Linked DNA regions of Homo sapiens: region 2 is linked to region 1. Evidence: fine-mapped expression QTL. Tissue or cell type: unexposed skin. Region 1 holds a variant in brackets; the other region holds the start of a gene. All regions are shown on one strand. Distances are from middle to middle.

The links. PIP is the estimated chance that this variant, and not a neighbour inherited with it, causes the effect.
Region 2: PDCL3 starts here. The variant in region 1 is the best candidate, but not a certain one, in a credible set for the expression of PDCL3 in unexposed skin (GTEx, PIP 0.60).

What each region holds. Positions count from the first base shown.
Region 1 is chr2:100,582,664-100,590,457 of GRCh38, forward strand. No RefSeq gene overlaps it. Among named protein-coding and RNA genes, the nearest start is that of LINC01849, 17 kb to the right of the region's middle. The variant A/T (reference allele first, on the strand shown) is at 2,918.
Region 2 is chr2:100,560,900-100,565,899 of GRCh38, forward strand. It overlaps PDCL3 (phosducin like 3), which reads left to right and starts at 2,094. Exons shown (of 6, transcript NM_024065.5): 1 at 2,094-2,174. The coding sequence starts at 2,169. RefSeq lists an enhancer at 839-1,635 and a silencer at 2,081-2,420.

The DNA of each region.
Region 1 (7,794 bases):
GGAGGCGGAGCTTGCAGTGAGCCGAGACTCCGTCTCAAAAAAAAAAAAAAAAGAAAAAGATGCCCTAAGCTGGTAGTACCTCTGAGCTCATAGCCAAAGCAACTGCGTATCTATGCTAGAACACACCTTTGATTTAGCCTCAAACTCTCTCCTAGAAGCTCCAAGAACATGAGCTTCTAGTAAAAATATCACAAACCCACAAAATCACAGGATGCCACAGATAAGGCATCCTGAATGAAAGCCAGCAGAAAACAGACAGCACAGCCAGACCTGCAAAGACAGGAGAGAGGAATTTTCAGACATAAAATATACGATGAATGTTTTTTATATGTTATATAAAAGTGTAAAAACGTATAAAAAAGTTTTTTATGTTATATAAAAGTGTAAAAAAAAAGAGTACCTTAGATAAAAATGAATTCCTTAAAAAAATAACTAACAGAACAGCGAATTAATGAACTAGAAAGCAGAGCCAATTCCCCCGAAGCACAGGGTCAAATGGGTGGGACAAATTTTAAATGTTACATTTAAAATCTGTGATCCTGGCTGGGTGTGGTGGCTCACGCCTGTAATCCCAGCACTTTGAGAGGCTGAGGCAGGCAGATCACTTGAAGTCAGGAGTTTGAGACCAGCCTGGCCAACATGGTGAAAGCCTGTCTCTACTAAAAATACAAAAATTAGCCAGGTGTGGTGCACACCTGTAGTCCCAGCTACTCTGGAGGCTGAGGCAGGAGAATCACTTGAACCTGGAAGGTGGAGGTTGCAGTGAGCTGAGATAGTCACGCCACTGCACTCCAGCCTGGGCACGGAACGAGATTCCATCTCAAAAAAAAAAAAAAATGTGGTCTTGTGTTAATTTGCTAAGAAAAAAGATGTGGAAGACTGAGGTTTTCTTGCATGTCTCAGATAAACTTTAGGAGAGAACTGGAAGTAGAAAGTATTTGAAAAGATAAAGACATTTTCCAGAATTGATGCAAGCCACCAATTCACAGATTTGGAAACTTACACACATCCCAAGTGAGTTAAATAAAATAAATCCATACCTCCATATATATTGAAGCTGCAGGATATCAGGCAGTGACAAAAGTCAGACCACCTATGAGATAGTAACGATGAGGCTTACTGACTTCCCAACAGCAGGAAGGAAAGCCAGAAGACAGTGGAATAGTGTCATCAATGGCTTAAGGGAAAAAGCAGCTCTTAACCCAAAGTTGTTTATAGCCAGTGAAGCTGTATTGTAGGGATGAACTAGAATGAACTAGGTGAAATAGACATTTCAGACATAGAATAGATGTGTTTGTCACCAATGGACACTCACTAAAGGAAAGTTAAGGAATTTGCTGCCAAGAGTGGTGGCTCACACCTGTAATCTCAGCACTTTGGGAGGCCGAGGTGGGCAGATCACCTGAGGTCAGGAGTTCCCAAGAGCAGCCTGGCCAACCTGGTGAAACCTCATCTCCACTAAAAGTACAAAAATTAGCCGGATGTGGTGGTGGGCACCTGTAATCCCAGCTACTTGCAAGGCTGAGGCAGGAGAATCGCTTGAACCCGGGAGGCGGAGGTTGCAGTGAGCTGAGATCGTGCCACTGCACTCCAGCCTGGGAGACAAGAATGAAGTTCCGTCCAAAAAAAAAAAGGGAATTTGCTTTGTGCAGAAAGATGATGAGCTGATGTAAGGTCTAAGGTTCAAGAAAGCATGTTGGCCAAAAAAGGGGAATGGAAATCTTAATGAACATTGACTTCACATAGTAATGCAAAGTCTGTCTTCTTTGGGACATAAAGAACAAAATACAACTAAAAAACAGGACAAAAGAGTACACAAGCTGAAGGAGGATAAACTGGAGTTCAAGCATTCTTAGACCTTTACAAAGTATTCAAGAGTTTGGCAAACTTATGCATGTTAAAAATATTTTTTTCAAGGTAACAGTAAAAGAAAAAAAATTGAGTGTATAACTTTGAAAGTAATGGGGGAAAAAATCTCAGTTAATTCAAAAGAAGACCAGATGGAAGAATAAAAAGAAACAGAAAAGCAGGTCTTAGAAAGTCCAAAATAAGATTTTAGAAGGAAATCTAAAACAGTAATCACAGTAAACATAAATAGATAACACTCTTAATAGTCTTACCATACGATCCAGCAATCATGCTCCTAGGTATTTACCCAACTACTTGAAAACTTAAGTTCACACAAAACCTGCACACAAATGTTTATAGCATCTTTATTCATTATCGCTCAAAACTGGAAACAATCAAAACATTCATCAATAGATGAATGTATAAACACACTGTGGTATATCAGGACAATGGTATCTGCTTCAAAAGGAAATGCGCTATCAAACCACACACACACACACAAAACGGATGCTAAGTGAAATGAGCCAGTCTGAAAGGGGATGTGGATATTTATCTCCTGATCCTCATGATGAAACTTGACCCCAGTGTTGGAAGTGGGGTCTAATAGGAGGAATTTAAGTCATGGGGGTGGATCCCTCATGGATAGATTAATACCCTCTGATATGGTCTGGATCTGTGTCCTGCCCAGATCCCATGATGTTCAATTGTAATCTTCAGTGTTGGAGTTGGGGACTGGTAGGAGGTGGTTGTATCATGAGGGTGGATTTCTCATGAATGGTTTAGCACTATCCCCCTTGGTACTGTCCTCACAATTGATAGTGAGGGAGTTCTTGTAAGATCTGATTGTTTAAAAGTGCATAGCACCTCTCTCTTCACTCTCTCTCTTGCTTCTGCTCCCACCACGTGAGGCACCTCACTCCCCCTTTGCCTTCTGCCATGACTGGAAGCTTCCTAAGGCCTCCCCAGAAGCAGATGCCAGCATCATGCTTCCTGTACAGCCTGCAGAACTGAACTATGAGCCAATTAAATCTCTTTTCTTTATAAATTACCCAGTCTCAGGTATTTCTTT[A/T]TAGCAACATGAGAACAGACTAACACACCCTCCCTGGAAGGGAAGGGGGTATGCACAATGGAATGAGTACTCACTCTGTTAATTTCCGTGACAGCTGGTTGTTAAAAAGAGCCTGGCACCTCCCTCCCCTCTCTCTCGCCATGCGATCTTTGTACATTGGTTCCTTTCACCTTTCACCATGAGTGGAAGCAGGCCGAAGCCCTCACCAGAAGCAGATGCTGGTGCCATGCTTCTTGTATAGCCTGTAGAACTGTGGGCCAAATAAACCTCTTCATAAATTACCCAGCCTCTGGTATTTCTTTCTAGCAACACTAAATGGACTAAGACATAACATTCTGGAAAAGGCAAAACTGTAGATACAGTAAAAAGATCAGTGATCACCAGGGGTTCAGGGGAGAGTGGAAGGGTTGAATAAGTAAAGCACATGGCACTTTTAGGGAGTCAAACTATTCTGAATGATACAATAATGGTGGAGAGATGGTAATAGGGGTTCGTCAAAACTCATAGAACTTCATGGCACAAAGAGTGAATCTTAATATATGCAAATTTCAAAAAATCTTTAGAGGGTTTGGGGAATGCCTGGATGAAATGCAGAATGGGGCAAGACAATCTAACTGCATTACAAATGTATGAAACAGCCTCACAGAAGGGGGCTGGGGGAAATGTGCTAACCTAAGCAGCACTGGAAATGAGTCCATGAGGGGAAGGGCAAAAGAAGCTGTACACAAGCCCTGTCTCTAGTTGATAAAGTCATTTATCACATGGGTGTGAATTAACAGTTGTAACACTGCTATACATATAAAGAGAATCGAACAGTTAAATACATAGATGGCAGATGGTGGGAGCCAGGTTTCTCACTGTTATCATGAGAGGTTACAGATAAGTGGGGGGCAAAGGTGAGTGTAAGTGAGAATAATCCATGTGGTAATAGATTAGAGTTGGAGTCATCACTATGAACTCCTGTTTAGGTTTTGTCTTTTTTTTGAGACAGAGTCTCGCTCTGTCGCCTAGGCTGGAGTGCAGCGGAGTGATCTCAACTCACTGCAACCTCCACCTCCTGGTTCAAGCGATTCTCCTGCCCCAGCCTCCCGAGTAGCTGGGATTACAGGTGCCCACCACCACGCCCAGCTAATTTTTGTATTTTTAGTAGAGACAGGGTTTCACCGTGTTGGCCAGGCTGGTCTCGAACCCCTGATTTCAAGTGATCCACCTGCCTCTGCCTCTCAAAGTGCTGGGATTATGGGCATGAGCCACCGTGCCTGGCCACTCCTGTTTAGTTTAATATAGATACAGATGCTTATGAACAGAAATATTTAGGTAATGTATATGCATTGGGTAGTATACACACGCACATTTCCTTGCTCTGTCAGTTGAGGGAGGCTGAAAGAGGAATGACACCCCAGTAGCAAAGAACATACCTGCCACTTAGATCTTGATTTTTCTCCAAAAAAGGAACCAATGCTCTTTGAAGAAATGGCTGATTCTAAAACTGAAGCAGGAAATATACAGGATAAGCCTGGAGCATCTTGTAATTCCAGAACACAAAAAACTGCTGAACAAACAAACACAAAACCACAATGATGAGAGTACGTCAGAGGTCCAGGAGCCAACTGACAGATCTCCCAATAGCTAAAGCCGGAACAATTTGGGCAATATAATAAATATTGGATTATAACCCAAAATATAAAGTACATATCTATGAGTTCATACTGATAAAAAAATGATTGAATAAATAAGTTGCCAGGCGCGTGGCTCACACCTGTAATCCCAACACTTTGGGAGGCTAAGGCGGGAGGATCACCTGAGGTCAGGATTTCAAGACAAGCCTGGCCAATATGGTGAAACCCCATCTCTACTAAAAATACAAAAATTAGCCAGGCATGGTGGCAAGCACCTGTAATCCCAGCTACTCAGGAGACTGAGGCAGGAGAATTGCTTGAGCCCCGGAGGTGGAGGTTGCAGTGAGCCGGGATCACGCCTTTGCACTCCAGCCTGGGTGACAAGAGCGAAACTTCAGCTAAACAAACAAACAAACAAACAAAAAACACAAAGAAACCCATATATATGTATACACACACACACACACACACACACATATATATATATATGAATGGAAATAAATAAATAAATAAATAAGTGGAGGAGAAGAGACCATCGCCCAGGCAGCATTCCAAATAACGTAGAGATACTCTACTTAAGATATTCCACTCTTTAAGGGTGGGTTGTCCATAGCAACTTCCTTCCAAAGTGTACAATATGAAAAGGGAGGTGGGAAGAGTACCTTTTTTTTTTCTTTTTTTTGAGTTGGAGTCTTGCTGTGTTGCTCAGGCTGGAGTGCAGTGGCTCGATCTCGGCTCACTGCAACCTCTGCCTCCTGGGTTCAAGTGATTCTTCTGCTTCAGCCTCCCCAGTAGCTGGGATTACAGGTACCCAACAATAATTTTTTTATTTTTTTATTTTTAGTAGAGATGGGGTTTTGCCATGTTGGCCAGGCTGGTCTGGAACTCCTTACCTCAAATGATCCACCCATCTCAGCCTCCCAAATTTCTGGGATTACAGGCGTGAGCCACCGCGCCTGGCTGGGAAGAGTATCTTTATAGTGTAGAAACCTAACACTATCTCAGCTGGGTGATCAAGGTCAAAATCAACAGTGATGAGTCATACTGGTAGTACAGACCCTGGGTATGATGTAATGAAAATGACGCTTTACTTCTTTGGTCTTCCTCCAAAAAACCAAACCACAATTAAGACAAAAACATCTGACAAGTCCAAATTGAAGAACATTCTACAGAATAGCTGACTAGAAAAACTATCAACGTCATCAAAAACAAGGAAAATCTGAGAAACTTTTATAGCCAAGAGGTGCCTAAGAAGACCTGACTAGTAAATGGAATATGGTGTCCTGGATAAGGTCCTAGAACAGAAAAAGTGCATCAGTCAGAAACAACAGAACTCTGAAAGCAGATAGACTTTAGTTACTAATTATGTATCAATACTGATTCATTAATTGTAACAGGTGTACGATGCTCATGTAAGATGTTAAGAGGAGAGAAAACTGGTGCAGGATATATGAGCACTCACTGTACTAGCTTCTGAATTTTTCTGCAAATCTAAAACTATACTAAAAAAATTAAATTTATTTTAAAATATGGCAGTTCATGAATCACATCAAAATGGAAATTGTGCCAGGCACGGTGGCTCACCCCTGTAATCCCAGCACTTTGGGAGGCTGAGGTAGGCGGATCACTTGAGGTCAGGAGTTCAAGACCAGCCTGGCCAACATGGTGAAACCCTGTCTCTACTAAAAATACAAAAAATAGCCAGGTACGGCGGAATACACCTGTAATCCCAGCTACTTGGGAGATTGAGTTAGGATAATTGCTTGAATCCAGGCGGCGGAGGTTGCAATGAAGTGAGATCACACCTCTGCACTCCAGCCTGGCTGACAAAGAGAGACTCTGTCTCAAAAAAAAAAAAAAAAAAAGGAAATTGTAATCCTGTAAGAAAGGTGGTACTCAGTTCTTGATTGTCATGTGTCTATAGTAAAGTGCCAGAACTAAAGGGACACATAGGTGTTAGTTTGGGTCTGCCCAGATGCAGAGCCTGAGCGGGGACTTGGGTACAGTTTGTTCGAGAGGAGATCCAAAGATGCAGGCATGTGGTTGGGTGTGGTGGCTCACGCCTGTAACCCCAGCATTTTGAGAGGCTAAGGCAGGCGGATGACCTGAGGTCAGAAATTCTAGACGAGCCTGGCCAACATAGAGTGAAATTCCGTCTCTACTAAAAAGTACAAAAATTATCTGGGTGTGGTGGTGCACATCCGTAGTTTCAGCTACTTGGGAAGCTGAGGCAGGAGAATCCCTTGAACCCGGAAGGTGCAGGTTGCAGTGAGCCAAGTTTGTGCCACTGCACTCCAGCCTGAGTAACAGAGCAAGACTCCGTCTCTCAAAACAAAACAAAACAGAAAAAACAAAGATGAAGGCATGAGAGCTTTGAGAGACAGAGGCAGGGAAAGGGAAAAGCTGACAGAAGGGTGGGAATGTGAGGTCAGGGCTGGTGGCAGCGGAAACTCAATCCCTTTGAAACCTCTAAGAAGCATGTAGATGACCTCCCAGAGTTGTCCACCCACAGAGAGGATCTTGCTTTATCACCCAACCCTGGCCTCCACCACTTGAGGGTGCCCCAGGGGAGTGAACTGCCCTCCACTTCCGGGCTGTCCTTACGCAAAGGCTGAGCAACTGTCTGTGTGCCTTGGAGAAGGACTTCACAGATGACCCAGTGTGGATGCTGGTGGTGCAGCATGAGTCTGAACTTGCACAGAGTTTGGTTCTATTTTTTTTTTTTCCCAAGCCAAACTGTATGCAGCTTTATTAAAGATACTTTCCATAAACAATCATGGTATTTCAGGCAGGACATGGGCAGACAATCGTTAACAGTATACAACAACTTTCAAACTCTCTTCTTCAATGGACTACCAGAAATCAGAAAGCCACTATAAAACCCAATGAAGTCTTCATCTCATGCTCTGAATAGGGAAAGTTTGGAGTGAGGGTTGACATTTCACATTTAGCATGTTGTTTAACAACTTTTCACAAGCCGACCCTGACTTTCAGAAAGTGAAATGAAAATGGTAGAATTTATCTGAAGATCCACAATCTAGAAATGGAACCACTGCTCTTTTGACAGGTGCCATCTCAGTGGCATCACTGGAAAGTCCAGATTGCCTGACACACTGGTAACCAATGATTGAGGGTCAGGTCCCAGCAGATGTCTGGGTTTAAGGGAGTTAATTTTCTGCTGAAAGATGGAAAGGGAGAAGAGGACATAAAAACGAATTTGTTTTCCATACCACAAGGCTTTTGTGCCAAGGTGGTCAT
Region 2 (5,000 bases), 23 kb before region 1:
TCTTGCCATTGCACTCCAGGGTGGGGAACAAAGAGAGACTCTCAAAAAAACAAAACAAGGCCAGGTGCGGTGGCTCACACCTTTAATCCCAGCACTTTGGGAGGCCAAGGCAGGTGGATCACCTGAGGTCAGGAGTTCGAGACCAGCCTGGCTAACACAGTGAAACCCCGTCTCTACTACAAATACAAAAAAAAAAAATTAGCCAGGCGTGGTGGCGCGCACCTGTAATCCCAGCTATTCGGAAGCTGAGGCAGGAGAATCGCTTGAACCCAGGAGGTGGAAATTGCAGTGAGCCGAGATCACGCCATTGCACTCCAGCTTGGGCAACAAGAGTGAAACTCCATCTCAAAAAAAAGAAAGAAAAAAGAAAGCTTTCAGGACACCAGGCCATTTCCTGGGTCTGTTGTCTTAGGTCTGTTTGGTAAATATTCTGTGACTAAGCATGCGTAACCTTCTGGGAATACAACCCAGTAGGTCTCAGCCTCCTTTTCCCCATCCCCTATTCAGGATGGATTGGCTTTGGTTAGAATGCCTCTGACCGGATCATGTGGGGAAGAGCAACTGTAGAATAGCTGAGTCCTGGAAAACAGGCCTCAGGGAACAGCAAAGGCTGGGGATGAGGAAAGGACAAAACACCACCTGCTCTGTTGCTGTGCAGGACTGAGCAAGAAGCACAGGATCAAACTCAAAGTTAGTTCCAGTCCTGATTTTGGTGGTAAGACCCAAGGAAAATTCATTAACAAACATTGTGCTGCCAGATACATTAATAAATCCCTAAAAGGGCCTGTAATTCAGTTGAAATGAGTGAGAAAAATCTTAAGGATCCTTATAAATTAAATAAAAACTCCTTGCTCTCAAGCAATCATTTGATTCACTCTATATCAACGACTGTGCACTTTAGCATCACCTGAGGATCTTTAAGAAAGTATCTGTGCTAGGCCTCATTTCCAAGGATTTAATTTGTCTGGGGATGGAGCCCCAGGACATTCCTAGTTTTTGAGGGCTTCCAGGTGATTCTAATGCATAGCCACGGTTGGAAGCCCTGCGCCTATCTCACAGGTGTGTGGGTCTCTACTCTCTGTGTCCGCTTAGTTGCCAGGAGGCAGCAAGTTAGCCCACGTGTGCAAGATGCTTCCTTCCATACCAGGTAGGAATATTGCTCTCTTAAACTTGGAGTGTGCCTGGGCAGAAGCTCTGGAGCCCAATACCTGCATTTTACAAGTCAGATTGCTGCTTTTTGCTCAGTGCCTGTGTGCCTGCATACATGGGTCTCCTGATACTCAGGCACGGCAGATGACTTTCACCTTTGTTTTAGTGTTTTGCTCACTGCTGCATCTGCAGAGCCTAGAATGGTGCCTGGTACACAGCAGGCTCTCAATGTCTTATTAATGAGTTGCCTTTTCCAAGGCTGAAGTGATCGTGGGTGAATTCCAGAAGACCCTGCATCATTTTTATTTATTTATTTATTTAAGACGGAGTCTCGCTCTGTAACCCAGGCTGGAGTGCAGTGGAGAGATCTCAGCTCACTGCAAGCTCCGCCTCCCCCGTTCAAGCAATTCTTCTGCCTCAGCCTCCAGAGTAGCTGGGATTACAGGCAACCACCACTACGCCCGGCTAATTTTTTTGTATTTTTAGTAGAGACGGGGTTTCACCATGTTGGCCAGGCTGATCTCGAACTCCTGACCTCAAGTGATCCGCCCGCCTCGGCCTGGGATCACAGGCGTGTGCCACCGCGCCCGGCCTAGAGGCAATTTTCTATTTCTGACTTGTTAGGCTAGTCAGAGCGAGACGTCTTTACAGGTTTGGGCCGGCAGCTGGAAAAGGCACACGGCCCCGGGCTCCTCCTCCACCCAGCCCCACCCCTCCTCCGCTGAAGACCAGCCCTAATAAGGCAGCCACCAGAATTAGAACCAGGTCAAGTGCACTCCGAGCAGGACAGTAGGCAGATCCTATCTGGCGCATGCGAACGCTTCTGTGCCAGTTCCTTGAAGAGCAGGCGCAGACTCAAGGCTGTTGCTTCCGCCCTTACTCCCCGCCGCTCGTCCCTGGGCGGGGCGAAGGCTGGGCTGGGGGAAGAGGCGTGGCGGCGCTGTGCGCGTGCACAAAAGAGAGCTGAGGGGCGGGGGCGCTGCGGCACAGCTGGTTTGAGCAACTGAACTGGAAACAAGATGCAGGTGAGCTAGGACGGGTCTCGGGTCTGGGGGCTGCGGCCCGTTCCTTTGTCTCGTTAGGCCCGGGCGGGCAGTGGACGCCCGCCCTGGGGGAAGCTCCGGCGCCGCAGGCACGAGGGAGGCCCGGCGCGTCCAGGCCCTGCGCAGGCGCAGTGCGGGAGGCGGGCGTGGTCCCACCAGGACCCACGGCCTGGGCGTCCCCGCCTCGGTGTGCCGGGTCCCCCAAACCTCGTCCTCCGGGACTATGTCTTCTCGCGGTCTCTACCCACCCGGGCCTGTGAAGGTCTTGCCGGATCCCGCCTAACAAAAGTTACCTCCTCTCCTGAACTCCCCTAAGGCACACCTGGGCAGAGGTGTTAGGAAGCGGAGGGTCCGGCCTGGGGTCTTCCGCACGTAAAGCAGCGCCACAGCCGGTGTTCCTGGCTCCACTGAGAGCCAGGTGAGGGCTTAGTTACACCCTCTTCCCCCGAGCCCTGGGATCCGCTTGGGGCGTGTTCCCTATCTGACCGCTCGGGTTCCAGAGCTCCCCGCGAGGGTCCCTCTGTTTCGTCCTTTTTTTTTTTTTTATTAAAATAGGTAAAATAAATTATTTTTCTGTAGCTGCAATTTACTAGCGGAATTTGGTTAAAGCCTAAGGAGAATGAATGAAAACACCATGGAAATGGGCACTATTGTGGGTGAAAACCTATGCCAACTAAATTTTGTCACTGTCCAAAGATCCCGCAGTGGTCAGAAATTCTAATCTCTGCTTAGTGGCAGATGGAGAGGAGAGGGTGCGGGTTTTGCTGGGGAGGGAGGCATTAGGGGCTGGAGGGGAGGGCGTGTCTGCCAGGAGCCAGACACTGTTTTTTTTTTTTTTGAGACCGGGTCTTGCTCTGTTGCCCAGGCTGGAGTGCAGTGGCTCTGTCACAGCTCACTGCAACCTCGACCTCCCGGGGCTAAGCCATCCTCCCTTGTCAGCCTCCGGAGTAGCTGGGACCACAGGCGTGCACCCACCACTCTGGGCTAATTTTTTGTGCAGATGGGGTCTCCCTATGTTGCCCAGCCTCAGCCTCCCAAAGTGTTGGGATTACAGGATGAGCCACCGCACCTGGCCTAGACACTCTTAAATGGTGAAGTGGTAGCTTGAGGGCTGCCCTGGCCTCCTTTGCATTCCCTGTCCTTCAGGTCCCTTGAGGCCTTCCCTGACCACCCTGTAGAAAGGATTCTGCTCTTTTTGTTTGTTTGTTTGTTTGTTTCTTTTTGAGACAGAGTCTTGCTCTGTCGCCCAGGCTGGAGTGCAGTGGCGCGACCTCGGCTCACTGCAAGCTCCGCCTCTCCAGTTCACGCCATTCTCCTGCCTCAGCCTCCTGAGTAGCTGGGACTACAGGCGCCCGTCACCACTCCCGGGTAATTTTTTGTATTTTTAGTAGAGACAAGGTTTCACCATGTTAGCCAGAATTGTCTCGATCTCCTGACCTGGTGATCTGCCCGCCTAGGCCTTCCAAAGTGCTGGGATTATCGGCATGAGCCACCGCGCCCGGCCTCATTTTTCTTTTGATGTATCTCAGAACTGTTACACAGGGTTGGGGTTGGAGACCGATTATCCCGGTGCCCTTTTCACAGTGCTCCTGATTTCATATTCCAAAGCAAGCCTGAGCTCCATTAGCAGTGTTCTTGCCACACCATGCAAACCGGTGCTTGGGCAGCTGGGTTCTAGATCTAAGAGCCACTTTTACATCAGTCTTTGTGACAATGATCCTTTGTGATTTTGATGCTGGCTGATTTGGCCAGCCGTTCTAGCATGGCAGTGCCTCTAAATGCCGTGCCTCTCCTAGGCTTGTGAGGATTCAGGGACAAGGTACAAGAAAAAGGGCTTAGAGTGCCCTGTATTTTATGAGCTACTCTGAGACGTCTCAGCTTTTCCTCTCAGGTTTGGCCATTAGAGAATTCTGTCAGCCAAGCCTCATCTGCAGCCTGAGATCCTCAAAATGTCACAGTCTCTTTGCTCTTGGGCAGTATGCATGCCGCAGGCCGCTCTGCCTGGAAGATTATTTTCTTGATTACGGGCGTGCACCTGGCTAATTTTTGTGTTTTTAGTGGAGATGGGGTTTCACTATACTGGCCAGTCTGGTCTTTTAACTCCTGACCTCAGATGCTCCACCTGCCTTGGCCTCCCAAAGAGCTGGAATTACAGGCGTGAGCCACTCCACCCAGCCTGGAAGATTTTTTTTTTTTTTTTTGAGACAGAGTCTAGCTCTGTCGCCCAGGCTGGAGTGCAGCGGCTCGATCTCGGCTCACTGCAAGCTCCACCTCCCGGGTTCCTGCCACTCTCCTGCCTCAGCCTCCCGAGTAGCTGGGACTACAGGCGCCCGCCACCACGCCCGGCTAATTTTTTGTGTTTTTAGTAAAGACGGGGTTTCATCATGTTAGCCAGGATGCTCTCGATCTCCTGACCTTGTGATCCACCCACCTCTGCCTCCCAAAGTGCTGGGATTACAGGCGTGAGCCACCGTGCCCAGCCTGGAAGATTATTTGTAAGCCCCCAGACTCCTATCACAGATTGCTTTCCACCCTCAGACGGAATGTCACCTCCTCTGTAGGGAACATCCCTATCTACTCTGTGGAATGTGGGTCCTGGGTAATTCTCTAAAATGGCAGCCTGTTTGTCATTGCACTTGCCACAATTTTATCTCTCTATGTATAGTTTGTATATATACTTGTTTGTTGCCTGTCTCTTCCTCTTGTCTGTAACACAGGTGACTCTCGCATTCACCACTCTTCCCCATTGCCTACAATAATTTACATGTGGTAGATACTTCAGTTTTATCTGTTGAATGAATCACTCAG